4 linked regions of the Homo sapiens genome follow. The protein of the gene in region 1 interacts with the protein of each later gene in a pairwise test. Each region holds a gene or a part of one and is shown in the gene's direction. Other genes may lie near its edges. The genes, in order: BMAL2, RORC, CLOCK and NPAS2.

Region 1 (5,981 bases):
TTCTAGAACCTTTTATCTCTAAATTAATTATCATCTCCATGGTTCCTACTTACTTCCTTTTTCAATAAAAATCTGATTTATCTCCCTTTTATAAGAAAATTCCAAATCTTTAGAAGATGCTTCTGTCTCAGGCTTCTCATTTCAGTATTAAACAGATAGGGTTTTTTCATAAGCAGATTAAATTTTCTCCTTCCAGGGTTTGCGCGTGCACACACACACACACACACACACACACACAAACATACACTAAATTTCCTAGCTTCCTTCCAGCTCTCTGAGAGTCTGTACCCTTTAGCAGTGTAATTTCCTATTAGAAAACTCATAGACTAGCTTACTTCTCTGTAGCAGATGAATTAGGTGCAATTTATCTGACAGAAGATTGTTATAAAACTAGGTAACCCATTTAAAAATACATCAGCCATCTGCAGCTTAAGATATATACTTTGCCTTCAAAAATACATTTTATGGTTTTCTAGCCTTGCTTTGCCATTTTTTATCACAATCATTTTTTAACCTCAAAATGTGTGAAATGTATGACTTTACTGATCACCTTTACTTACACAGGCCTGTATTTTAATTCATAGGTGATGGTGCACAGTTGGATTTCGATGCCCTATGTGACAATGATGACACAGCCATGGCTGCATTTATGAATTACTTAGAAGCAGAGGGGGGCCTGGGAGACCCTGGGGACTTCAGTGACATCCAGTGGACCCTCTAGCCTTTGATTTTTAACTCCAAAAATGAGAAACATTTTAAAGCATTTCATTTACGAAAAACTGTCTCAACTATTCTTAAGTACTGTATTGATATTGTTTGTATCTTTTATTAATGTTCTACCACTTTTTATAGATTTGCATCTTCCTGTCACAGGGATGTGGGGAAATACGTTTTCCTCCCAAGAGAACCAAGTTTATTATAGACTCCTTTATTCAGTGAAATGGCTTATAATCCACTAGTTGCCATATTTTTGCTAAAATATTTCTAACCAAGAATACTACTTACATATTGTTTTGGCTTTGTTTTATTTTTGATGCAGTTTTTTTTAGTTGAGGTAATGTAATATATTGATGTTTTCCTTTGTGTCTAAGATTCATTTATAATAGTAGGTTTGTATAATTTGGAACATTTTCCATTCCTTGCGAATTTCCTTAATTGAGGATAGGGCTTACACACTTTAAGAAAACAGTGAGTACTTGAACATTTAAAGGGACAGTGCAATTTATAGTCATAATCACATTGAATACTGTATTTGATCTTTGGAGACTTAGGCAAGCACAGAGCTGGGATATTTATGCTCAGTTGAGCACTTTAAGATGAATTTTAAGTGAGATGATTTCTTGCTTAAAACTCAGAAAGTCAAAAGAGTTTCAGCTTTCCTTACAGAAAAGGAAGGATCTTGGGCCCTAGATCTTGGGGATTAACCTCTGCATATAAGATTTACTCTTAATAGGCCAGACGTGGTGGCTCACGCCTGTAATCCCAGTACTTTGGGAGGCTGAGACGGGCAGATCACTTGAGGTCAGGAGTTCAAGACCAGCCTGGCCAATATGGTGAAACCCCGTTTCTACTAAAAATACAAAAAAAATTACCCAGGCACTCACTCTTGAGGTAACTAACCAACTCCCACGATAATGACAGTCCATTCATGAGCGCAAAGGCCTCATGACCTAATGGCACACACCTGTAATCCCAACTGCTTGGGAGGCTGAGGCGAGAGGATTGCTTGAACCTGGGAGGCAGAGGTTGCAGTGAGCCGAGATCGCACCACTGCACTCCAGTCTGGGCAACAGAGTGAGACTTCATCTCAAAAAAAGTAAAAAAAAAGATTTAATATAATCACTGAAGATCTCTATTATAGATAGATTAGGTTTTTGACATTGGAAACATACTTAGGGATAGATTTGTCCTAAAGGAAAAAAGTAGGCCCGGGCAGATTAAATGTCTTGTGTAAAGTCACACATTAAATTCAGTCACACATTAAATTCATAGAGTTTTAAATGTTTAATGTATATAAACCAGTTTCTTTATACACATTTGGGAAAACATTGGTCTCACAGATTAAATGATTAACTAACTGACCCAGGAACTAGTTGTAGCTTTCTAAGTAATTAGGCAATTACAGTTATTGCCTGTAACCAAAGGTAATAAAACAAAATGACAAGTACATGTTTAAAATTATGAGGCAATGAGAAATAATTTAAAAACCAATTTTCTAGTTATAATTTAAAATTTGGAGAGCATTTTTAACAGTAATTAATCCAGAGGTGGCTCAAATTGAGTATAAGAATTAAGATTATTTAAAATACTGCATGTCTACCTTCTCGGGGATCATACTTTATAACACTTTCTGCTTCAGTAGCTCTTCATAGCTTGCCAAGTATGCTCCCATATTTTCTCTCTCGTGCCTCGCAAATGAAAGTCAGATAGGCTGGGAACTCATGGGGCAGCCCTCAGACTTCAATGTGGGCTTCAAATCCAGTTTCCTGTTCTATATGGTGCTACATCTTTCCAGAAAATTTCCCTCAGAGCCCCTCGCCAAAACAAAGCATTATTTTGACCCTGCATGCTATTTCTTTAGCTGTAGGTGATAGATTAGAACTTCTGTCAGACATGTTAATGACAAACATACCAACAGACAATAACCAAAAGCAAATGTTTCCTTCAAGTGTGAAATGTGCAGGGGCTTCGTGGGCAAGGATGTATTGGCACACTGTCCTCTTGAACTGATAGTGTCCCAGCAATGTTGGAGGGTTGGCACCATTCCTGGTCCGACACTTGAGGACCTGAGAGACATCAGGTTTAGAATGAGCCAAAGAAATCCTACAAGATGGGGAGAATTGGTGTGCAGCAGCCTAAGTGTTATAGTTAAGTCTAAAGAAGTATGAAAGATCCCCTGTGTTCTCTAAATTGAGCAGAGGGGCCTGCCTACCAATATCACTTTTTAGGGGACTGAACCATTGCAGGTTAGACTTGGCTTCCAAAGAGTCTGCCTAAGCCAGGGGTGGCAGGGTAGGCCATCATAGCTGGATGGCCTCAAAAGCAGATGGGGGCAGACTTGCCCTCGTGATGCCAGGATTTGAGAGGCAGAGTTTCTAGAGGGAGACCAGTGCTGCCTCTCACAGTGGCAGTTTTTTCTCTTTGCAAGAGGAGGGGCTGTTCAATTCCATAGACCAGTGGGCAGATAGCCAGTTGAATACTCTGTGCATGGTTTGATCCTTTATTAGTTCGCTCTAATATTTTTCTGTAGATCCTTTTGTCCTGGACTCAAAATCTAATCCATGCATTGTATGATACCGTAGCTCTCCTAAGGTTTGTGTTTCCTTCAAAATGTTTTAGTTTTCTTCAACTAAATTTGATTTTTGCTGTTAGAAGTGACATATTTTTATGGTATACACTATGTTCCTTTTTTCTACTGCGAGTCAATTTTTTGAATTTTCGTGAGAAAGAATATATCTACAAATTGCACGAAAGTATCATAAAAACAGTACTCTAGACTTTTCTTTTCTTTTCTTTTTTTTTTTTTTTTTTTTTTTGAGATGGAGTCTCGCTCTATCGCCCAGGCTGGAGTGCAGTGGCGCGATCTTGGCTCACTGCCATCTCTGCCTCCTGGGTTCACGCCATTCTGCCTCAGCCTCCAGAGCAGCTGGGACCACAGGCGCCCGCCACCACACCTGGCTAATTTTGCTTTGTATTTTCAGTAGAGACGGGGTTTCACCATGTTAGCCAGGATGGTCTCGATCTCCTGACCTCGTGATCCGCCCACTTCGGCCTCCCAAAGTGCTGGGATTACAGGCATGAGCCACTGCGCCCGGCCTACTCTACACTTTTTTTAACCCTAAGAATTACCACTACAGTAATGTAGTGGAGTGGGAAGAGTGCCTGGAATCAGAAGACCCTGTTGAGGCTGAATTTAGCTGTATGACCTCATGCAAGCCATTTAAACTCTGTGCCTCAGCGTCCTCATTTTTAAAAGGAGGTTTGATCTCTATGTTTACTTCCAGCTCTGATTCTGGGATTCTAATCCACAGGACTTGGGTGTTAGGGTGGAACCTAGAACTGTGCTGTCCAGTGCAGTAGCCACTAGCCACATGTGGCTACTGAGCACTTGCAATGTGGCTAGTACAAAGTGAGATGTGCTATCAATGTAAGATACATACCAGATTTTGAAGACTAGTATTACCAAAAGAATGTAAAATATCACATTAATAATTTTATATTAATTACATGTTCAAATGATATTTTGGATATACTGAATTAAAACATTAAAATTAGTTCTACTTGTATCTTTTTACTTTTTTAATGTGGCTAGAAGAAAATAAAATTATACATGTGGCTCAGATTATATTTCTATTGGACAGCGCTGCTCTAGAACATTATATTAAGTGGTTATTATTGAAGTAGACCAAAGTTTATACCATAAGGATATTTTTCCTTAAATACCATGTTTGAAGAACAATTATTTATTGATCCTTGAATCTGTAAGATCAAATAACAAGTCTCTATCCATGTTACCAAATTTAAACTTTTGAAAATAATAAACTTTAAAATATCAGATGTGTTATTACAGGATGATACTTGGAATCAAGTGAAATGAGTTATATGGTCATCACTAAATTTAGAAATCTATTGTGAAACAAAGACAAACAGGAAAGTACAGAATAGAGACTTTTAGTAAATAAATGGAATTTAAAAGAAAGTGTTTATTTACAGTGTCACGACAGAAAAGGATGTCTTTGTTGTCATAGTCTTTGAGGGATCTCCGTAAAATCTGGGGCACAGGTACAAGAAATAGCCAATATTTAGTTCCCAGACCATGTTTAGTAGTGTCCAGTTTCAGATCATGCTGCCAAGAGGTATCTCCCCCTCAGGTGGGTCATCACTGAGCCCTGGAATTGGAGACTCATACTTGCCCAGCACAATGTTACGGGCAGACAGGCCGACATCTATGATTAGCTAGAAGCCATAAAGAAAAGCTGCTAAGTGGCCACTAGGTGCCACTTTTCTGTTTTTGTAATGCTTTCATTAGCAGATCTTTTTTTTCCAAGCTCCATGGGGCCTATGAGAGGCATTTATGATTTTTGTGCCTACAATAAGTCAGCCTGTCTGGTGTGAGTTGTTTTATGAGAAATGCTTTCCAAGGGAGGTCTAGGAAGATCCTGACACATAAGAACTTTGGCTTAGAGAGCTTTCCAGGTGTAGTGCCAATAAAAACTGACCTGGAAAGAAAACCTGCCCAGCACGGAACATGCTTTCTGAACTCACTTGAGAGTGTATGGTGTATGTCACTTCTCATATATTCTTGAGTTTAGATTTGTCTTTTATACAATTTTTAGCTCTTTTCCAGTTCACTTGTGCTCGTCTGTATATTGGTATTTTTAAATTTTTGTGGTAAATAATGAAAAGAGTGAAATTATATTTTATAATTACTCATTTGTAGTTTTTTTTTTTAATTTAATAAACTTCCTCCAAAAAGTGCTCCCTTAACTACTTTCTAATGTGGAAACATAGATTAAGGAAACCATCCAGTGCCCTCAAACCACTGGGCAGAGGGGTACATTGAACTCTGTTACTATATATATTTCTGGGTATGTTCCCCAGGGTATACTAACTGCTGTAACAACTCCAAAATCTCAGTGGTTTAACCAGTAAAGGTTTCCTTGTGCTCACGTCAGACTCCAACGTCATCAGCCTTATCTGTCCCTCTGACTCTCTCCTCCTCCCTTTCTGCCTCTTCCTCATTCCATCCCTCAGCTTTGCTTTCCTATGAGCTGGTTTTATCTTCCGGTGGACCCTCTCCGCATAATGACACTCAGAAGTTCCAAGCGTATATTGTTCTTATACCTGACAATTTCAGTGGAAAGAGAGCCTCTCTATTTCCTAGTAATTCACATGCACATATGCATTGACTGGGCCTCTGGATCAACTTGGTTTACCTGGACTTTCTGTTGTGTGGTTGCAGTATCTACACTAATTCTAGA
Region 2 (7,025 bases), on another chromosome or scaffold:
AGGTCCTGAACTTTATCTGTGTTATCTCAGTTGATCATCACAACCACTCAGTAGAGTAGATATTAGTATTCCTCTTTTTTGGGGTGGGGGGACGGAGTCTCACTCTGTTGCCCAGGCTGGAGTGCGGTGGTGCGATCTCGTCTCACTGCAATCTCCACCTCCCAGGTTCAAGTGATTCTCCTGCCTCAGCCTCCCGAGTAGCTGCCACTACAGGCGCGTGCCACCACACCCGCTGGTTTTTTGTATTTTTAGTAGAGACGGGGTTTCACCGTGTTAGCCAGGATGGTCTCGATCTCCTGATTTGGTCTCATGATCTCGGTCTCGGTCTCATGATCCACCCACCTCGGCCTCCCAAAGTGCTGGGATTACAGGCGTAAGCCACCGCGTCACAACCACTCAGGAGAGTAGGTATTATTATTCCCACTTTACAAAGAAAGAAATGGATCAGATAGATAGGTTAAGTAAGCTTGCCTGGGGAACAGCCCTGGCTGGAGGGAAAGGTTCTGACCTGACTCCACCCAGACACCCCCACTGCCACCCCAACTGCTTAGGGGAAGCTGTGAGGAAATCCAAGGCCACTCCTCCCAGGAGCAGTTCACTCAGCATTCACAGCCCTGAGGCTCTGTGATGGGGGCCCTAGCATTGCTGGAGGAACATCCTGGGTAGCTAAAGTACAGAAACATGGGAGTGAGGAGGTCCTAAGAAACCCTCCAGTGTGCAGATTGCTCTGGCCCCAAAGCACTTCTATAAACACTAGTCAGAGGCCAGGTGTGGTGGCTCATGACTGTAATCCTAACACTTTGATAAGTGGATAAATGTGGGAGGCTGAGGCGGGCAGATTACCTGAGCTCAGGAGTTTGAGACCAGCCTGGGCAACATGGTGAAACCCCATCTCTACAAAAAATGCAAAAATTAGTTGCATGTGGTGGCATGCACTTGTAGTCCCAACTACTTGGGGGGCTGAAGCAGGAGGACCTCTTGAACCCAGGAGGTCAAGCCTGCAGTAAGCTGAGATCACGCCACTGCACTCCAGCCTGGGTGACAAAGTGAGACCTTGTCTCAAAAACAAAACAAAACAAAAAAATCCACTAGTTAGGACAGGTATTATTGCCCCATTTTTACTGATGTGGTAGCTGAGGGCTGAGATTTCCCTCAGGGCCTACAGCTAGTAAATGGCAGACCACATTCTTATAAGTGATTCTGCCCCAGCATTTAAACCCTTCTTGCCACCTCCAAGCCTGTGTGACTATAAATGTTAATTGGTAGAGGAGAGGTACAAGCAGGGTCACTGTGGAAAGTTCAAGGCCAGGAGCTAGGGTCAAACTCCCACTGTTCCTCCACCCACAGTGGCCTTTGTGACAAGAAGGGGGAGGGGTGGGGACTGTGAGATCTGGAGGCTACCGAAGGTTACAGAGCCTGGGCTGTCCTTTTTCAACGGTTGAGGCACAACCCATCCCTGAGTCACTCCAGTGGGTTGAGGCGTCCCCAGGCATGGAACCCCCTAGAACCCAAAGAAAAGTGGTCCCTAATCACTGGATCAGGCATCCCAAGGAGAGGGCCCTCCAAGGATGGGGCTGGGGAAGTGTGTGCCACCGCAGACTACCCAGGCTCCACATATTTTCCACCTTGACCCCCAGGCCCTCCCTGAAAGGGCAGATTTGTGCTGAGCTTTAAGTGGTTTCTGTGGTTTAGGGTTGGGGAAGGAAGGAAAGAGATGCTGGGGACTGCTCCCCAGTTCCAAGCCACCACCACCACCTCCCATCCCTTCCAGAGTGTTTGCCCCCAGCATGGAGATTTCCCCAATAAGGGGACTGGGCACGTGGGGATGAAATGATTCTCTGATCCCTATCAGCCCCTTCCTTATATAAGATTGTATTTGAAGAGGAAATAACCACCGCCCTGCTTTGAAAGGACGATTCTTCCAGATAAGGGGCTGTGATTGCAGCAAGAGGGAGAAAGTTTAGACAAGAGGGGGAACTTCCCATAAGGATAACCAAGGGATCTTCTTGCCCTGGGGAGAAAAAAAACTCAAACTATCCATGCTTAGGGCAGGGGAGAGGTAGAGAATGCCTAGGAAGCATGTGACACTCCTAGGCCTAGAGGTCAGGATACTGTCTTCTAAATCTCCAGTCACTTCCTCCCCACCCTACATAGTAGCACAAAGTGGCACAACTGGGGAGTCAGCTGTGCCTGCAGTGTCTGGGGATGCTCTGTGTCCATCCGCAAGCATTCTACGTGACCTCCACTCTGTGCCTGCAATTGGTGGGTTGTAGAAGAGGTAGTCACGAAGGGCCCCTGGGAGACCCAGAGTCAAGAGGAAGAGAGGCCTAAAAAGGAGAAAAGATAGAGAGGGGACAGCTGGAGAAGAGCCACAGACAGGCAGGAGCCAGCAAAGAGAGACAGAGAGATGGGGGATAACTGAGGAGTTCTGGGGAGGAGGGGAGCAGAACGGCATCTCCCCTGCACTCCCACGCCCGGCATGTTGCTGGCTCCTCCTGTCAGCTGGAGGGTGCTGGGGGGGCGGGGGGGAAGGGAGCTGCAAAGCACTTTACCTCTCACTCCAAACCTGCCCAAGGTGCAGAGCCCCCAAACAGACCAACATCCTGTTCTGTGCAGAGATGCATACATGGATGCGTGGGCCCACATTTACCAAAAGAACACGGGGGATAATCAGAGCCTCAGAGGCATAGGCACATACCCTTAGACTCAGTGCAGAAGGTCCCCAAAACTTCCCCTCCTCTTTCTCACTACTCATCCACTGTCAATGACCCTAGGAGTTGAAAAGTCCTTCTCCACTTCTACCTTTATCTCTCAATCTGCAGCCATGGGGAGACTCTGGGAGCTACCTAAGAACAGAGGTGCTGATGGTAGCAGAGTGTGAAGCTCCAGGGTTGGGCAGGAGTGGAGGATGGCGAGACGAGACGGCAGAAGAGGGAAGGGACAGCTGCTTGCCCTCTCCATGCCAGGTGCCACGTGCACCAGGTGGGGGGGAGTGGGCGAGTCACGAGGCTGTGGCATGGCTGACTCCTGCTCTGCTGTTTACCAGCTGGGAACGAGAGCAGGAGGAGGTGCCAGGGAGCCTCTTGCTGCAGCCTGGCCCCTGGCCAGTTGCTTGTTGGGTAACCAGGAGAGTCAGGCCCAGCTAATCAAACTCTGGGCCCAGGCCATGCAGGAGAAAAGCAGCACCAGGATCCCCAGAAGCCTCGTCCTCTTGGCCCCCTTCAGAGCCTTCACTGCAGGCCTCAGTGTGGGCCACTAGGTCTGGGAGCCTCTCCTTCTCCCAATGAGTCCAGTGCAGCATCTCTCCTCTCCTCTTCCCCACCATGGCTTCTCTGCCTCCAGGCACTCCTCCAGGCCTGCCCCTTGCCCCAACAGATGAGGAGCACGTAGAAGCATCAGGGGGTCAGGGAGTCCTGGCAAGAGCAGCAAGGGTTAGGGGCAGGGGCCGAGCAGGCAGAGGCCTCAGGGAACTGAACAGTCACTGGGAGGAGTCTGACTGCATCCTAGAGAAGAGACACAGTCCCCCAAACCTGCCCTCTCCATCTCCCCTATGCCTGTCACCTGTCTTAGGTAGAAATCACAGGATTCTAAAGTCACAAAGACTTGGGTCCAAATCATAGCTCACCCATTTATTGTTCTTGTGTGAGTCCTTGGGCAAAATCATTAATATCTCTGAGAATCCCTCCACTCACTGATCAATCTGGAATAATAATGTTTCCCTGTGGTGGGTGCTGTGAATATTTACACAAAGTAAAAGCATGGATTTACATAAAGTGTCCTGCAAAGGGCCCAGCACACAGTAAGTGATTAATAAATGCTAGTTCCCTTCCTTTCTCCTGTCCTGTTTCTCCTCAAGGCTCCATGCACTGGTCCACTGGTCTCTCCTCATGTCCCCTCCTGGTGCCAGGACACTCTGCCAGCCACTCCTTTTCCCTGCCTGCTGGAGGGCCAGGTGCTCCCGCCTTCCACCCTCCGCCCTCCTCCCTCCCCTGGGCCCTGCTCCCTGCCCTCCTGGGCAGCCAGGGCAGCCAGGACGGCACCAAGGGAGCTGCCCCATGGACAGGGCCCCACAGAGACAGCACCGAGCCTCACGGGGTAAGAGGCCCATGGCCCTGCCTGCAGGTGGAAGAGACTGCTGGAGGTTCAGAGGAGGGCAGAAATGGCAAGAGACTGGGCAAGAAGTGAGGAGGGGAGGGAGGGACAAGAGTGCAGAGGAGAAAGCCCTGGGTTGGCAGGGAGTGAAACTGGAGGAGAAACAGGAGGAGGGGCTGGGGAGATGACAGAGGAGAAGAAATCGCAAAAGGAGAGAAACAGGAAAGAAAGGGAGAAGCGGGAGAAGGAAGAAACAGGTTGGAGGGTAGATGGGGAGGGAAGAGCCAAGTCAGGGGAGCCAGATCTAGACCCAGCGAGGGGTCAGAATGTGGACAGGCCCTCCCAGGTGTGGGCTTACCCCCCAGGAGGCACAGGGACACTGCTTCCTTGATCTGGCCAGGACCCCAGACAGCAGTGGCCGGGAGGCTGGCTGCTCCACCTTCTGTTCATTCACCAGTGGAGAAACCTGTCCTTTAAGGAGTGACAGACTTGGGGAGTGTGGCAGGGGGAACCACACCCTGTCAGCTGCCCATGACCACGTAGCCTGGTCCTTTCCTCGCCACTCACCCAGGGATGTGGGATTTCATCTCTGCAGAGAATGTGGGGCACTGGGCCATCAGCAGGGAAGGACAGAATGTCAGGCCGTCCTTGGCCCCACCCATGGTCCAAGTCAGGAACCCCCTCAGAGCAGGATCGCAGGGCCACAGGCTTGGTCAGCTGTGAGCATGGAGGAGGAAAGTTTGAGGGCCAGAGCCACCAAGCTCCAGGGCCACCTGGTGGAGGAAGAACTGGCTGCCTGGGTGAGCAAGGGGAGCACCCCCACCACAGGACTGCTCTGAGGTGCAAGGCTAGAGGCCAGGAGCCGGTGCCACGTCAGGGAGGAAGCTGGGTGGGGCCAGGCAGGAGCAAGGGGAGGTGGGCGGGGCTGGGTGGGGCCTTGCCACCTCGGGGCAGTCTTTTCTCCTCCCTCACCCCAGCAGAGCCCAGGCCATCAGGCCACTCGCCTCCACACAGCCTAGTGACCACGGCCTGCCAGTGGGGAGCATCTCCCGGGCAGAAGGGCACTGTGTGTGTGTGTGTGTGTGTGTGTGTGTGTGTGTGTGTGTATGTCAGGTGTCAAGACTGAACAGCAGAAGGAAAAAAATAACAGAATAGAGTCAGAGGTTAGGGAAGCTATAGGGGGTATAGGGCATGGTTGAAGGGCTTTCTGAGACAAAAGACTGGCCATGTGTTCTGTGATGAGCTGCTATGTGGATGTAGGAAATGGGCCAAGGTCTGGCAGGGGAATCCTCTTTCCAGGGGCTCCCTGGCTAGGTGTTTCATAGATGTTAACTGCATGAATGGGTGACACCCCCCCACCCACCAACCATGCTCCAGCTAAGGCCCTCCCCTCAACGGCTGCTCCCCCTGGAGGTCCGAGTATCCATGTGACCCCCATCGACCCACTCATGCTCCCTACTGCCCAATCTCCACCCAGACCCGGCCACGCAGCAGCAGCAGAGAAGGGAGGCCTTCCTCTTCAGGCTGGTAGGCCAGGGAAGCCTGGCCCGTGGAAGCCAGAGAGGGGTCTGTATTTGCAACTCTCCCCTCCTCTTCCTCCAAACATCCTCTCCCCCTACTCCCAACCCCCACATCTCTGAAGCCCTGGTGTTTTCAGGCATAGATAAGCAACCAAGAGATTTCAGTCCCACAGAGATTTAACTCTGGCTGTAGGATATTTCTTGTGCACCTCCAATGAAATTACAAAGTAAATAAGACCAACACAGTCCCTGCCTTCACAGGGCTTTACAATTTGGCAGGAAAGACCCATTTCATAGACAATGACACAATTACAGCAGTTAGGTGACAGTTGGTGACATGGTGAGTGCCAGGAAATAAAATGCAAGGAGCTAAATGTGTCAGCACAAGGGCAGGGGAAGGGGGTGTGTGTGGCTTCTCCAAGGAAGAAACATAATCAGAGACCTGAGGGAGAAAGAGAAGTTGGCTAGATTAAGGGGTACAGGAGGGACAGGCATTCTAGGCAAAGGAGCAGCTTGGGGGAGTCCCAGAGGCAGTGAGGAGCCTGACACTTCTGGGTACCTGGAAGAGGGCCAGTGTGGCCCAAGGGCAGAGGAGGAGAGAGGGGCACTGCAGGGGGTGGCCTGCCTGCCCTTCAGACGCCAGGCTCTGAGGGAAGGAGTGCGGCAGTGGGATCCTAGGAGTGGGGAAAGTGTCTCAGCCCCTCATGATCTTCAACCTTTGACGTCAACCCCCTCTCTTGTCTTTACAGAGCTGCTGGCTGCAAAGAAGACCCACACCTGTGAGTAGGGGGTCCGGGGCAAGAAAATGGCTGGGGCATAATGAGATGGAGAATAATTCAGCAAGTGATCTGTGGGGGGACTGAGGTTGGACAGAGGTGGAGGAGTCAGGAAGAGATGGCAGGCAACAGGAAAGCAAGGGGAGGTGCGAGGAAACCACAGATCAGGGCAGTGGGAGGAGATGAGGAAGAAGCCTGAAGCATGAAAGGAAACACTGTAAAGAAACCAGGAGAGAACAAAGGAAAAGGGAACCGCCTTGTGAAAAAAGGCGAGGAGAAATGCTGGACAGAGGCAGGGAGATGGGAGGGGGTGGGGCCGACTGCCAGGCCGGGGAAGGAAGGAGATAGAGGTAGGGGGGTGTGCGGAGGCGGGGTGGCCTCAGGAACTCAGGAACTCAGCGCTGCTGCCAAGGGAGACAGGGAGCCTGCACCAGGCTTTTTTTTTTTTTTTTTGAGACAGAGTCTCACACTGTCGCCTGGGCGGGAGTACGATGGCACAATCTCGGCTCACTGCAACCTCCACCTCCCAGGTTCAAGCGATTCTCCTGCCTCAGCCTCTCGAGTAGCTGGGACTACAGGCACCCACCACCACGCCTGGCTAATTTTTGTATTTTTAGTAGAGACGGGGTTTCACCAT
Region 3 (7,030 bases), on another chromosome or scaffold:
CCCTCCACTTTGAGGCAGGAGGATTGCTTGAGCCTAGAAGCTTGCAACCAGCCTGGGCAACATAGTGAGACCCCATTTCTATAAAAAATTAAAAATTAGCCAGGCATGGTGGCTCACACCTGTAGTCTTGCGTACTTGGGAGGCTGAGGCAGGGGGCTCACTTGAGCCCAGGAGTTCAATGCCACAGTGAGCAGTGATCATGCCACTGCACTCCAGCCTGGGTGACAAATCAAGACCCTGTCTCAAAAAAAAGAAGAAAGTAAGGACCCAAAGGTGTAGATGCTAAAGGAATAAGGAACAGTGATGTGGCCCGGGTCCTAGAGAAAATAGGAAAGACTATAAATGGTAGAGATGGAAGGATTAGCTTTAGAATGTGAAGCAAAACTTTCCTTTGAAAGTGAGTAAAGAATGAAAAGGATGAGTAGCTAAAAATAGGGAAACATTAAGTTGTTTGCACCAGAAAATCTATTTTTTCTATTAAAGACAAAGTGAGATCCTCTCCTGAAGGTGCTCTACTTTTATGAACTAAATGTCATTGACGACTTCTGTTGGGGAAAATAATGGTTGTAAACTTACACAACTTTTATGATCTTACTTTATGTGGTATATCAATCATTGTTTTATATCAGAAATATGTGATTTTTAAAATCTCTTTTATTTCAGCAAAAAATCAGTTAGAATTCTGTTGTCACATGCTGCGAGGAACAATAGACCCAAAGGAGCCATCTACCTATGAATATGTAAAATTTATAGGAAATTTCAAATCTTTAAACAGTGGTGAGTTAAAATGCTTCTCTCACAATGTGTTTTAACTTGTTATTTTTCTGTGCTCTTAAAGACATAGATGTTTGAATATCAGTGACAATTAGGTTTTGCTGGCATAACTGATGATACATATTTCCCTATTGTTTTAGTATCCTCTTCAGCACACAATGGTTTTGAAGGAACTATACAACGCACACATAGGCCATCTTATGAAGATAGAGTTTGTTTTGTAGCTACTGTCAGGTTAGCTACACCTCAGTTCATCAAGGTATGTTTTTAATTTTATTTCCCAAAGGGGATTTCAGTTCATATGCTGAGAGCTGCCTGAAACTTCCTGCAGACATTGAGGTGGAATGGCTATGAGTCATTAAATATGCATGATAATATTTTTGAAACGATGAGTTATCAAGACACTCATTAAATTGTATAACTAATTTTTTAGTATATATCCTTTGCAGTTAACCAGTGATTATTATATATCAATATTGCCCTACTTTTGTGGAAGATTTTAGGATCCTTTTGTGTGTTGTTCATTATCTCTATTAAAAGGGAAAGTCCAAAAATCTAGGTTTTTGGAATCTTTATTTTTAGAAGGTAACTTTTAAATTTTTATTTGAAATGTACAAGTGGCTCTTTGCCACATATAACTTACCTTTTCAAATGTAAAATTAGGTATTTTATTTTTATTTCCTGGACCCAACAAACAGATGACAAGTAGGGAAGTGGGAAAGTGAAAGAGTTAACCACTAGAAACTGACTGGAAAGAGGCAGCCAGGCTAAGATTTAAAATTTCGGCGGGGCCAGGCGAGGTGACTCATGCCTGTAATCCCAGCACTTTGGGAGAGCAAGGCGAGAGGATTGCCTGAGCCCAGTAGTTTGAGACCAGCCTGGGCAACGTGACAAGACCCCATCTCTACAAAAAATACAAAAAATTAGCCAGGCATGGTGTTACACACCTGTGGTCTCAGTTACTCAGGAGGCTGAGGCAGGAGGATCATTTGAGCCCAGGAGGTCGAGGCTGCAGTGAACTGTGTTTGCATTTTATTTTGAGACAGAGTCTGACTCTGTCTCAAATAAATTTGGGGGGACATCATAGTATAGGACAAAGTACTGAATTAATAGAAGATCTTAAGCCAGTCTTGCTTGGTTTGTTTTGATCTTATGAAATAATAGTTGTTAACATTTGAGTGCTTACTACATGCTGTGTATTTTATATGCATTATCTCATTAATTCTTATGACAACCCTATAAGTTAGATGCCATTACGATCCCTCATTTTACATTATAAGGAAACAGGCTTAGGGAAGTTAAGTGACTTGCCCAAAGTCTCAGCTATTAGTGATGAAACTGGGACTTGATTCTATTAATTAATAATTGTTTTTTTCTCAAAGCCCAAGCTCTCAACTATTACAGAGTGCTGCAGGTCATTCAGGGACACAGAGGCAGGATGGAATACATTGTTTAGTATGACTAGAGTCTAGGGTTAGTGTGTGGAGGGGGAAGAGATAGTGGGAGGTAAGGCTAGAAAAGTAATCAGAAACCAGAAATAAAATTTGTTTCTTTCTTGTTTATTTCTCCATGCTGAAGAGAGTTTAGCACAAGGAACCACTGAAGGTTTTTTAGCAGGGAAGTCATATAATATTTGAGTATTGGTAAGGTAATTGTGGCCCTAGAAGAGAAGATGAGTTGAAGGACAGGGAGACTGGTGAACACTGTAGCAAATCAGTGATGGCAGGGGTCTAAACCAATGCACTCAAGATGGATGAGATAGAATTGATTTTTAAAATACTTAGATGAAATGGAAAAGATTTAGTAATGGCCACTTAGATGATGAAAGGTAAAAATGAAAGAGTATGTTTTTTTAACTATCAGATTTCTAGACACTGGCCACTACACATGTATAGAATAATACGGAAAATTGTGTGATTGGGTGTGAGGAGTAAAGCAGTTAGTTTATTTTAGGACATATTGAATTTGAGATGTATGAGGACATTCAGATATTTGGAAATATGGAACTGTAATTCAGGAGAGAGGTCTGAATTTTGAATAAGCGTTTATAGGCATGTGTGAATGGAAAATGTGTAGAGTGAGAAGTACCCACCCAAAAGCTTGCATCTAAAGGTTATTTATTACCACATTCTTTAGTACTGGAAAATTAAAATATATTAACTTGTTTAGAAGGGCCTGCATTTTGGCTTATGCCTAGAATCCCAGCACTTTGGGAGGCTGTGGTGGGCAGGTTGCTTGAGCCCAGGAGTTGAAGACCAGCCTAGACAACATAGACCCCCCACCTCTACAAATAAAAATACAAAAATTAGCCGGGCGTGGTGGTGCATCCCTATAGTCCCAGCTACTTGGGAAGCTGAGGCAGGAGGATCGCTTGAGCCTAGGATGTTGAGGCTGCAGTGAACTGAGATCACACCACTGTACTTCAGGCTGAGTGACAGAGTGAGACCCTGTGTCAAACAAAGAAATAGGTAAATATATACATACATAGAAACAACTAACTTGTTTAGGAAAAGTTTATCTAGTAATGACTATTTATTTATGTATTTATTTAACCTCCACCTCCTGGGTTCAAGTGATCCTGCTGCCTCAGCCTGCCGAATAGCTGGGATTACAGGTGCCCGCCACCGTGCCCTGCTATTTTTTGTATTTTTAGTAGAAATCGGGTTTCACCATGTTGGCCAGGCTGGTCTCAAACTCCTGACCTAAGTGATTTGCCCACCTCAGCCTCCCAAAGTGCTGGGATTACAGGTGTGAGCCACTGCACCTGGCCATGACTTATTTTTATATGTAGCAATATTTAATATTCTTAAGGACACAAAGTATTTATAAATTTTAATTATTTATTTGTAGGAAATGTGCACTGTTGAAGAACCCAATGAAGAGTTTACATCTAGACATAGTTTAGAATGGAAGTTTCTGTTTCTAGATCACAGGTAATTCCATTTTTAAATTCCATGAAAAGGTAATAGTCATGTTATATAATTCTTGAAATTAATGGATCAAGGGCAAACTTTTTTTTAAATTAGGACTTTGAAACCTGTTCCCATTTTTTGAAAAATAAAGCCCCCCCCCCAAAGTTTATTTCTAGTTGAAATATTTCTTATTATGGAAAAACTTATAATAATGATTGTTTTCTGTGTAATTTAGGGCACCACCCATAATAGGGTATTTGCCATTTGAAGTTCTGGGAACATCAGGCTATGATTACTATCATGTGGATGACCTAGAAAATTTGGCAAAATGTCATGAGCACTGTAAGTAGATTTTAACATTTCTGGTGATAATAACTGTTTTATAAGCAGAAGTCCTGTCCTGAAATGATAGGTAGTAAGACACAGATTTATAATCATTTTCATATTTTTGAAATATGCTAAAAGATTTTGCTTTATGTATATAACCAATGTAGTAGGAATCATAGATCAAGTTTAAACTTGTTCCTATTTTTATAATAAGTAGAATTTTATAATATTGCATCTAATACACCTTGTTCTGAAGCACGTGAGCTCTATATCTGGAGTAAGAGAAGTAGATTCCTTTGAAAATTGTAATACTTCAAACTTTTGGAGTATTGTTTCCTAAATTTTGATTTTGAGGCATGTGAATCTTTTCAGGAGCTAGGTACATGTCTGGAAAATCTGTCTTAGAAAGCTCATAGTAAGTGCTTGGTGTTATCTGCTTATTATTGTTGTTAGAGCAGGAGCATTATCATCCTTTGTGCCAGGCACTGTTCTAAACACTTTACATCTATTATCTTCATTATTCTCCATCACAGTTCTAAAAGGTAGATGCTATTATTATCTTCATGAGTAAGCTGAGAACACAGTAAGGCTAAGTAATTCACCCATAATTTCATAGCTCATTGGTGGCAGAGACAGGATTGGAGCCTAGGCCTACTCTTTTTATCACATGTATTTATTTTAGAAGTTTGTTTTAATGATGAGGTTTGCCTTAATGATATGTTTTATTTGCTTCTCTGATCCTCCTCCCAGATGCTTACCATCTTGAGTGTTCACTAAAGCTTAACTAGATATTTTAGACCTTTTCATGACGTTTTATGCTGCTGTTATAAACCTCACTGTATGAAAATGAAGCAGGTTGTATAATAGCATTAACTCTATGGAAAATTTTCAGAGTAAAGTCATTTCAGCACAAAAGATGTGGGCATTAAGCACCATGATGTTGTCTAAAGAGCTGATACCTCTATTAACTAGCTGGGTAACTTTGGACAGCAAGTTTGTTTGTAGACCTTGATTTCCTCCTTAGAGAGTGAGAGGCGGTGGCGGCGGGGTTGGGGGGTGGGGGGACAGATTGAGAGATTCTTGACTAGCATTTTCTAAGGTTTGTTCCACCGAATGTTGGTCCATAAAAAAAGACTTTATAGTCAAGGAAGATGGGGAAACACTTCATAATCCCTCAGAGAATCTGCACATGCATTAGCATACTCTAGGTTTTGAGAAAACTGAAGACACCTATTTAACAAAAAGTTTCCCAAATTAATTTAACTACAAACCCTTTTTTTTTTTTTTTTTTTTTTTTTGGGATGGAGTCCTGCTTTGTCACCCAGGCTGGAGTGCAGTGGCGTGTCTCAGCTCACTGCAGCCTCCACCTCCCGGGTTCAAGTGATTCTCTTGCCTCAGCCTCGTGAGTAGCTGGGATTACAGGCACGTACCACCATGCCTGGCTAATTTTTGTATTTTCAGTAGAGATGGGGTTTCACTATGTGAGCCAGGGTGGTCTCAAACTCCTGACCTCAAGTGATCCTCCCACCTCTGCTTCCTAAAGTACTGAGATTACAGGCGTGAGCCACCACACCTGGCCCAAAACCCATTTTTTTGTTTAATATCTGTTAAAACGCTTCAGAACTTAAAATCCACAGCACATGTTTTGGCAGTTACTGCACTCAGTTACTTCAGACTCAGTTACTTTGATTTTGGTTAGTTAAGGTTTAAAATTAAATGCTTCAAAGATTCTGTGCCTGCCAGAGTAGTTAGGAGAAAAAACTCAGGGGTGATTATTTATTGTTATTACCCTCTGTATATCTAGGCAGGAGGAAGTCAGCAGTGTGAATTCTTAAGTATTAATTGTGTATGGAAAGATTGTAAGATCAGCAGTGACTAGCTGTGAATTGGGCACTGTAGATCTGATAATTGCTTGGGACCTTAAACTAGCTCTAAAGAATAACATTTTCATATTGACATATATGTTATCAAAAGGCCAGAAAAATAATAGTATGTGTAAACTTAAATGTAAATGATAGCTTTTGGTTAAAAAACAATCTTTATATAATATGAATTAAAGAAAAAATATTTCTCTATTTTCCTTTTAGTAATGCAATATGGGAAAGGCAAATCATGTTATTATAGGTTCCTGACTAAGGGGCAACAGTGGATTTGGCTTCAGACTCATTATTATATCACTTACCATCAGTGGAATTCAAGGCCAGAGTTTATTGTTTGTACTCACACTGTAGTAAGGTAATAATTCTTTTAGAGAATTTCTGAATTACTGTAACATCCTATGATGATTTTGGCATTGTAACTTTTATGCGTAAGTTGTTAAAGAGCTACAAAGTGCTCTTTTCTCAATTGCTGATAGATCCTTTCAATATATTATTAAATTTACTTATAGGCATTATATATAAATATAGGAATGATATAGATATATAAGTCTTGATATAAATTTTGTGCTTTACAGCAGAAGTTGTTACTGTCATTTATGTAGTAATGTCAGTCATGTAAAAGGAAAACTGTAGGTAGATAAGCATACACTTCCTTTATTTATTTTTCTTAATTTAAGTATTGTGTGGTTATGGATCGTTTACAGCAGTGTATGAAACTTTAAGATACCTAGAAAAATGCAAGTTAAATTAAGACATTATAGGTATATTTTAGGTTTGTGTAGCACATAGCAAATAGTCTAGATGAACAGATGAGACACGTAACAACACTGAATAGTTACAGCTGTGCAGTATTTTAAACGAATGACCAGACACTAAAATTTGATTATTTTTTCCATTTGTAGTTATGCAGAAGTTAGGGCTGAAAGACGACGAGAACTTGGCATTGAAGAGTCTCTTCCTGAGACAGCTGCTGACAAAGTATGTTTCTTATAATTAAAAAAAATTATTTTTAATTTCTCCCCAATAAAAGATGAAACTCAATAATTAATAGGAAAACTATTTTTCAAAAATACTTTATTTCCTCACTTATAACGGGGATGTGATTATACTTTACTACTTATTTTTAATTTAATATTT
Region 4 (7,030 bases), on another chromosome or scaffold:
ATTTCTGAATGCTAATGGGGTACTTAACTATGAGTAATTCTATTTTAAATCTCAAGGTGATGATGATTAATAGTATCTCAGGGCACTAAATAAACATGTATTAAATATGAGCGTATGTTTAAAGGGGGAGTTTTTAATGCAGTCTTTAAGGCACAACTGCTTCTCACTTGAATTCTTTAACTGAGATTAAGGAGTCCTTGGCATTTTAAGCAAAGTCATTTCTTAGGTAAAGTTCCCCCAGAGACCACTTGAACTTTTGCAAGTCTTAAAACAATGGGTGGTTCCATTTGATGGTTCAGAATAGAAAGGAGAGTGTTGATCCTCTACACTGGTATGAAAAAAACTGTATAAGGAGATGGAGGATGCTGGATATCATAGTGCCCGAGAATCACCTGGGGCCCTTGTCAAACACAGATTCTAACTCAGGACACCTGGGAGAGGACCCGAGCTGCATTTCTCACAGCTACCAGATGCTGCACGCTGGCAAGGTTTTGGGATGCACTGAATCCAGTTCAGCATGTTTACTGAGCATATACCACATAGAGAGCCCAGATGATAAAAAAATGAGAAGATGGGTTGTACCTGCCCTTGAGGAGCTAACAAGGTGAGGTGGCAGGGAGAGAGAGAGGGATTGTAAACTGAAAATGAGGTTCTGGGATGCCATTCTCTGGGGTGGTGGCCAGAAAGGGGCCCAGGAAAGGAGAGTTGCTGGTAGGGCTTCCACATTGCTGACCTTGACCTGTAGTCATATTTGAATGGAGAGCCTTGTGACTTGGCAAGAAATAAAATGCAGATTTTGAAGTCAGACAGACCTGGGGTAGCCTCCCAGCTCAGCTATGGCAACTTTTAACCTGAGACTCAGAGTCCTTGTCAGAAAAACAGTGCAAATGATGCTTACCTTGCCAAGTTTGTAGAATTACCAGTAAAGGACGCGTGTTAGGCCTAACAAAAGTGATTGCTTTTATTACTGTTGATAGGAGAGAGGAGGCTGGAAAGCAAGGAGGACGAAGAGGTTACTAAAATATGTTCCATGTAGTTCACCAATTAGAGATTCAATTTGGTTTACCAGCAAACCCAAGGCCGGCCGTGGAGAACCGGGCCAGGGCTGGAGGGCAGGCAGCTGTGGAAGCTAATCAGAGGCAAAATGGAAAATTATTGGGAGCATGCTTATCTCCACCCTCTCCTGCAGTCCCTGGCTTCTGGTTTGCTTTGTTGATAGCCCTTCCTAGGATATTTTCATCTGAAGCTTTTCTTGGTACTTAAGCTGTAGGTTCTGTTGATCAAGACTGCTAGTGGCAATCAAGCGCTCTTTAAAAATGTAGTGGAGAGGACAAACACCTCTCCTCTTTGAGGGGCATTGGTCTATTCTGTGGTGGGTCACTTTCCAGGATCAAAGCCATCAATCTGTCTTTCCACCATAGTACGAGTTACTTGAAACTAGTGCCGAGCGTGTTGGAATTCACCTGGGGTGCCTTTTATGCTTTGCACTCTAAGATATTGCTTCCTCCTGCCATCTAGGAGAGATGGATATTGCAAGGCAATGGTGTCCTTCACCCTGATATTAGGAGGGGTCACCTGGGTGGCCCTGAAAACACTTCAACCAACATCACTCTGATTTTTTAAAATATATTTTGGGATTCCATTTATTATTTGCAAAGGCGATTTCTCTGCTACCATTTGCCTTCCACGCTCCCTGAAAGTAAATCTTGAAAACCAAGTTCTAAGAGAATGGCAATGGCAGTTTGATGTTTAGGGGGAAGGAAAAGCAGAGGAACCCCCTGGAGCCAAGGCAGGCCTGGGTGAGGGTGGAGACGAGAGAGGGAAAGGAAGGCATCGTCAGGCATGGGAGTACCAGGATGGAAATGGGAGCAGTGGTGGGGGCTGAAGCTGAGAGGTTGGACCCTAGGACTCAATTTGTGGACTTTGTTGCTTTGCTGAAGGCCGTGGCAGATAATGTTCCCAGACCACTGAAAATCATCCAGGCTTCCAGAAAACACAGGCCCATCTAAAGACAGACAGGTGACGAGGTGACAGAACCTAGTGGCGTGATTCTTCTAGCCTCTTCTGAGCCAAAAATGACATGCACAATTTTATGAATGATATTTGTGCCCCTTGGTGATAAAATATTAAGAGCTCGAGGTCATCTGAAAATTATTGGTTTTTTGTTTATAAAAGTACATAGTTTTTGGAAAAGATAGAAAAGAAGGAAAAAACCCCACAATTTCAAGATATATTTTCCGTTCAGTGTTTTTTCTATGCATTGAAATATTTTTATATTAGTTTATCTTAAAAAGCACATGGATATAATCTTGTAAAAATTTTCAAATAGCACAGAACCATTTCTAGTAGAAAGAAAAAAAATTCCCTTCATCCTTGTGGCCTACCCATAATCATCGCCCTATCTTTTATTTGCCTAGCAGAAACTGGATTTTGTACAGTAGACTGCCAACCCACACCTGCCTCTGGAGGTTTATCAGATTGGCCACTCAACCCTGGTGAGGGTGGGGCTGCTGCCCTTGCCAGTGACTGGCTCAGGGTGAGCATGCGGACCCTGTTCTAGCCAATAAAATGTGAGGGTGGGCCACTGGGAGGCTTCTGGGAAAGTTTCCCTGCTCTCAAAAGAGACAAGGAAGGAAACAGTCCTTTCCTTCCACTAGATACTGTGATATGTGGCCATAATGCCTGCAAACTGGGCAGCCATCAGCCACCAGAGGGGCTGGGCCAGGTCTCAGCTGACCTGCGGAAGAATGCAAAGGTGAAGAAGGGCAGGGGGCGGGGAGGTCTCCGTGGTGCCCTTGACTTTCTGAATTACACAAAGAAGAGTCTGTTTTTGAACATGTGTGAGATCATGAAACCATTACCAGATGAAGCAAACTGAGCTAGTTTTTCTGTTGTAGCCAAAAGCATCCCATAACTCTCCACCTTTCTCAGGAGGTAATGACTGATAACCATGGGGCATGTTCTGCTAGTCATTTTTGGCGCATTTACATATACACACACATATGTACACTTTTAAAAACTAAGGCCGGGTGCACTGACTCACGCCTGTAATCCCAGCACTTTGGGAGGCCGAGGCGGGCGGATCACGAGGTCAGGAGTTCGAGACAATCCTGGCCAACATGGTGAAACCCTGTCTCTACTAAAAATATAAAAATTAGCTGGGCATGGTGGCACATGTCTGTAATCCTGGCTACTCAGGAGGCTGAGGCAGGAGAATCACTTGAACCAGCGAGTCGGAGGTTGAAGTGAGCCAAGATCCTGCCACTGCACTCCAGCCTGGCAACAGAGCAAGACTTTGTCTCAAAAAAATAAAATTAAACTAAAAAATAAAAACAAAAACTGAACTCATTTTATGTATATTATTTAGCAACTTAATATGGCATGGATTTTTAATGACATACCTTTTTCTTTATTTTTAAAGGCTACAGAGTATTATTCAGAAGTACAAATAGGACGTTATTTAACCCATCCCTATTAATAAATAATCTATTGAGTTGACTGTTACAGTTTTTGTATTAACTTCCTTATCTGTATATCTTTATGTACATTTCAAGATTTTCTAGGTCAGGGATTATTAGGCCTGGGTAAAGGCACACCTGTTTGAAATATTGATAGATGCTGCCAAATTGGGGGCTAAAAAAAGCTATGCCTGTTAACCTCCCCATCTACAGTGTGTAAGGCCGCCTTGTCTCCATATCTTAACTAACACAAGATATTTTCCAGCTTTTAAATCTTTTTTGTGCATTTTCACATGTTTGAGGTAGTACCATTTATAGTTTTCTATTCTGATTGTTTTGACGTGAACATAAGCATTTTTCCATGACATAAACAATTTAAATTAAATTTTATTGGCTACATAATAGTTATACTTGTTTTGGGAGTGTATCGATGGTACATGAAGACGCAAAGGGAAATATTTGAAATAGAGGTTGTCTATGAAAATTAAGTGGCTATGATCGACCTTGCAGTAAACCTGAAAGATTTTCTGGAAATGGTGTTGGGAGACACACCCCTCCAGTGATATGTTTCCAAGAAAACCCTGAGGAGATGACCTTCCAGGCCTTTCTCAATCCAGTCAGATGGTAGGCTGCCCCAAGCATTTCTAAGAAGCTTTGTTGCTTTTAGAATCCATCAGATTTACAGTCAGACAGGTTCTAAATTCAGTTCTCTGAATGTACAGTAGTTACGTAAACACTTCGTACATTGCATGAGACAGCTGAAAAGTAAATTTGCTGTATTCTTTTAATTTTTTCGACTTTTATTTTAGATTCAGGGGATACATGTGCAGGTTTGTTACCTGGGTATATTGCATGATACTGAGGTGTGGGGTATGAATGATCCTATCACCCAGGTACTGATGTAGTACCCAATAGTTAGGTTTTCAGTCCTTATCCCCTGGCTCCCTGCTCCCTCCAGTAGTCTTCAGTACCTGTTGTTGCCATCTTTATGTCCACAAGTACCCAATGTTTAGCTACCACTTATAAGTGAGAACATGCAGTATTTGGTTTTCTATTTCTGCATTAATTCACTTAGGATAATGGCCTCCAGCTGCATCCACGTTGCTGTAAAGGACATGGCTTCATTCTTTTTATGGCTGCATAGTATTCCATAGTATATATGTAACACATTTTCTTTATCCAGTTCACTGTTGATGGGCATCTAGGTTGATTCCATGTCCAGTAGACATGGACATGGAATCACGATTGCTATTGTGAATAGTGCTGTGATGAACATGTGAATGCATATATCTTTTTGGTAAAATGATTTGTTTTCTTTTGGATAGATACTACTATCAGTAGTGGGATGGCTGGGTCAAATTAGTAGCTCTGTTTTAAGTTCTTTGAGAAAGCTCCAAACTGCATTCCACAGTGGCTGAACTAATTTACATTCCAGTCAACAGTGCATTAGTGTTCTCTTGTCTCCACAGTCTCTCCAGCATGTGTTTTTTGACTTTTTAGTAATAGCCATTCTGGCTGGTGTGAGATGGTACCTTATTGAGGTTTTGATTTGCATTTATCTGATGATTAGTGATATGGAGCATTTTTTTCATGTTTGTATGTCTTCTTTTGAGAAGTGTCTGTTCATGTATTTTGCCTATTTTTAAATATGGTTTTTGTTTTTTTTGCTTGTTCAGTTGTTTAAGTTCCTTATAGATTCTGGATATTAGACCTTTGTTGAATGAATAGTTTGTAAATATGTTCTCCCATTTATGTAGGTTGTCTGTTTACTCTGTTGATAGGTTCTTTTTCTGTGCAGAAGCTCTTTAGTTTAATTAGGTCCCACTTGTTAATTTTTGTTTTTGTTGCAATGGCTTTTGAGGACTTTCTTTCCCAAGGCCAGTGTCCAGACTGATGTTTCCTAGGCTTTTCTCTAGGATTCTTATGATTGAAGTCTTACATTTAAATCCTTAATTCATCTTCAGTTAATTTTTGTATATGGTGAAAGGTAGGGGTCCAGTTTCATTCTTCTGCATATGGCTAGCTAAATATCCTAGCCCCATTTACTGAAGAGAGAGTCCTTTCCCCATTGCTTATTTTTGTCAACTTTGTTGATGCTCAGATGGCTGCAGGTGTGTGGCTTTATTTCTGAGTCCTCTCTTCTATTCCATTGGTATATGTGCCTGTTTTTGTACCAGTACCATGCTGTTTTGGTTACTGTAGCCTTATAGTATAGTTAGAAGTTGGGTAATATGATGTCTCCAGCTTCGTTCTTTCTGCTTAGGATTCCTTTGGCTATTCAAGCTCTTTTTTGGTTCCCTATGAATTTTAGAAGAGTTTTTTCTAGTTCTGTGAAAAATGACATTGGTTGTTTGATAGGAATAGCACTGAATCTGTAGATTGCTTTGGGCAGTATGAGCATTTTAATAATATTGATTCTTCCAATCCATGAGCATGGAATGTTTCTCCATTTGTTTCTGTCATCTATGTTTTCTTTTAGAAGTGTTTTATAGTTCTCATTGTAGAGATCTTTCACCTCTTTGGTTAGCTGTATTCCTATGTATTTTATATTTTAATGGCTGCTGCAAATGGAACTGTGTGTGTTTTGTTGTTTTTTTTTTTTTTTTGAGACAGAGTCTCATTCTGTCGCCCAGGCTGGATTGCAGTGGCGCAATCTCAGCTCACTACAACCTCAGCCTCCTGAGTAGTTGGGACTACAGGCACGCACCACCATGCCTGGCTAATTTTTGTATTTTTAGTAGAGATGAGGTTTTGCCATGTTGGCCAGGCTGGTCTCGAACTCCTGACCTCAAGTGATCCGCCCGCCTGATCCCAGCACTTTGGAACTGTGTTCTTGATTTGGCTCTCAGTTTGGACGTTATTGGTGTGAAATAATGTAGAAATGCTACTAATTTTTGCACATTGATTTTGTATCCTGAAACTTTATCGAAGTCATTTGTCAGTTCTAGGGGCCTTTTGGTGGAGTTTTTCGGGGTTTTCTAGCCATAGAATCATATCAGCAGCAAAGAGAGAGAGTCTGACTTCTTCGTTTCCTATTTGGATGCCTTTACTTTCTTTCTGTTGCCTGATTACTCTGACTAGCACTTCCAGTACTATGTTGAATAGAAGTGGTGAGAGTGGGCATCCTCATCTTGTTCCAGTTATCCAGGGGAATGCTCTTAAAACATTTTCAATTCTGCTAGAGAAGAGAGGAAGGCAAATGAAATGGATAAAACTCATAAGAAATGTTAATCACCCTTCAGGCAAGGGCACATTTGAAAAGCACCACTCTTGGGCATGGACCTCTGATCATCCTTCTACTTCCTCACTCCTAAGTGATAGTGCATAGCCCAGGAACACCCACCACCTGCTGTCCTCCAATAGGAAAGGAAAAGGCAAGATGACAAAAGAAAAAACCTTCTCAGAGTCAACAGACCACACAAGAAAAAGATACCTTGAAAGCAAAAACAACCTATCAGTAGACTTCCTGGGGACATCATGAGGCAGCCAGCATAGCTCTTTGGTCTTTGTTGCATGCATTGAGGCATCCCAAATATCCTAACGCGAATAGAATTGTTAGTCATCAGACTACG

The links.
Region 2: the proteins of BMAL2 (region 1) and RORC interact in a two-hybrid assay, tested with the Homo sapiens proteins (one study listed by BioGRID and IntAct).
Region 3: the proteins of BMAL2 (region 1) and CLOCK interact in binary tests that used the Homo sapiens proteins (3 or more experiments, as listed by UniProt).
Region 4: the proteins of BMAL2 (region 1) and NPAS2 interact in binary tests that used the Homo sapiens proteins (3 or more experiments, as listed by UniProt).

The regions. Positions count from the first base shown.
Region 1 is NC_000012.12:27,419,812-27,425,792, forward strand, and holds the end of BMAL2 (basic helix-loop-helix ARNT-like protein 2), read left to right. Parts: intron 1-584; coding exon 585-721; 3' UTR 722-5,475; downstream 5,476-5,981. UniProt on the Homo sapiens protein: Transcriptional activator which forms a core component of the circadian clock.
Region 2 is NC_000001.11:151,828,795-151,835,819, reverse strand, and holds the start of RORC (nuclear receptor ROR-gamma), read left to right. Parts: upstream 1-4,017; 5' UTR 4,018-4,055; coding exon 4,056-4,095; intron 4,096-4,687; exon of another isoform or gene 4,688-4,690; coding exon of another isoform or gene 4,691-4,892; intron 4,893-6,361; coding exon 6,362-6,391; intron 6,392-7,025. UniProt on the Homo sapiens protein: Nuclear receptor that binds DNA as a monomer to ROR response elements (RORE) containing a single core motif half-site 5'-AGGTCA-3' preceded by a short A-T-rich sequence.
Region 3 is NC_000004.12:55,452,895-55,459,924, reverse strand, and holds part of CLOCK (circadian locomoter output cycles protein kaput), read left to right. Parts: intron 1-663; coding exon 664-777; intron 778-914; coding exon 915-1,033; intron 1,034-3,624; coding exon 3,625-3,707; intron 3,708-3,921; coding exon 3,922-4,028; intron 4,029-6,100; coding exon 6,101-6,248; intron 6,249-6,527; exon of another isoform or gene 6,528-6,795; coding exon 6,796-6,871; exon of another isoform or gene 6,872-7,030. UniProt on the Homo sapiens protein: Transcriptional activator which forms a core component of the circadian clock.
Region 4 is NC_000002.12:100,823,139-100,830,168, forward strand, and holds part of NPAS2 (neuronal PAS domain-containing protein 2), read left to right. Parts: intron 1-7,030. UniProt on the Homo sapiens protein: Transcriptional activator which forms a core component of the circadian clock.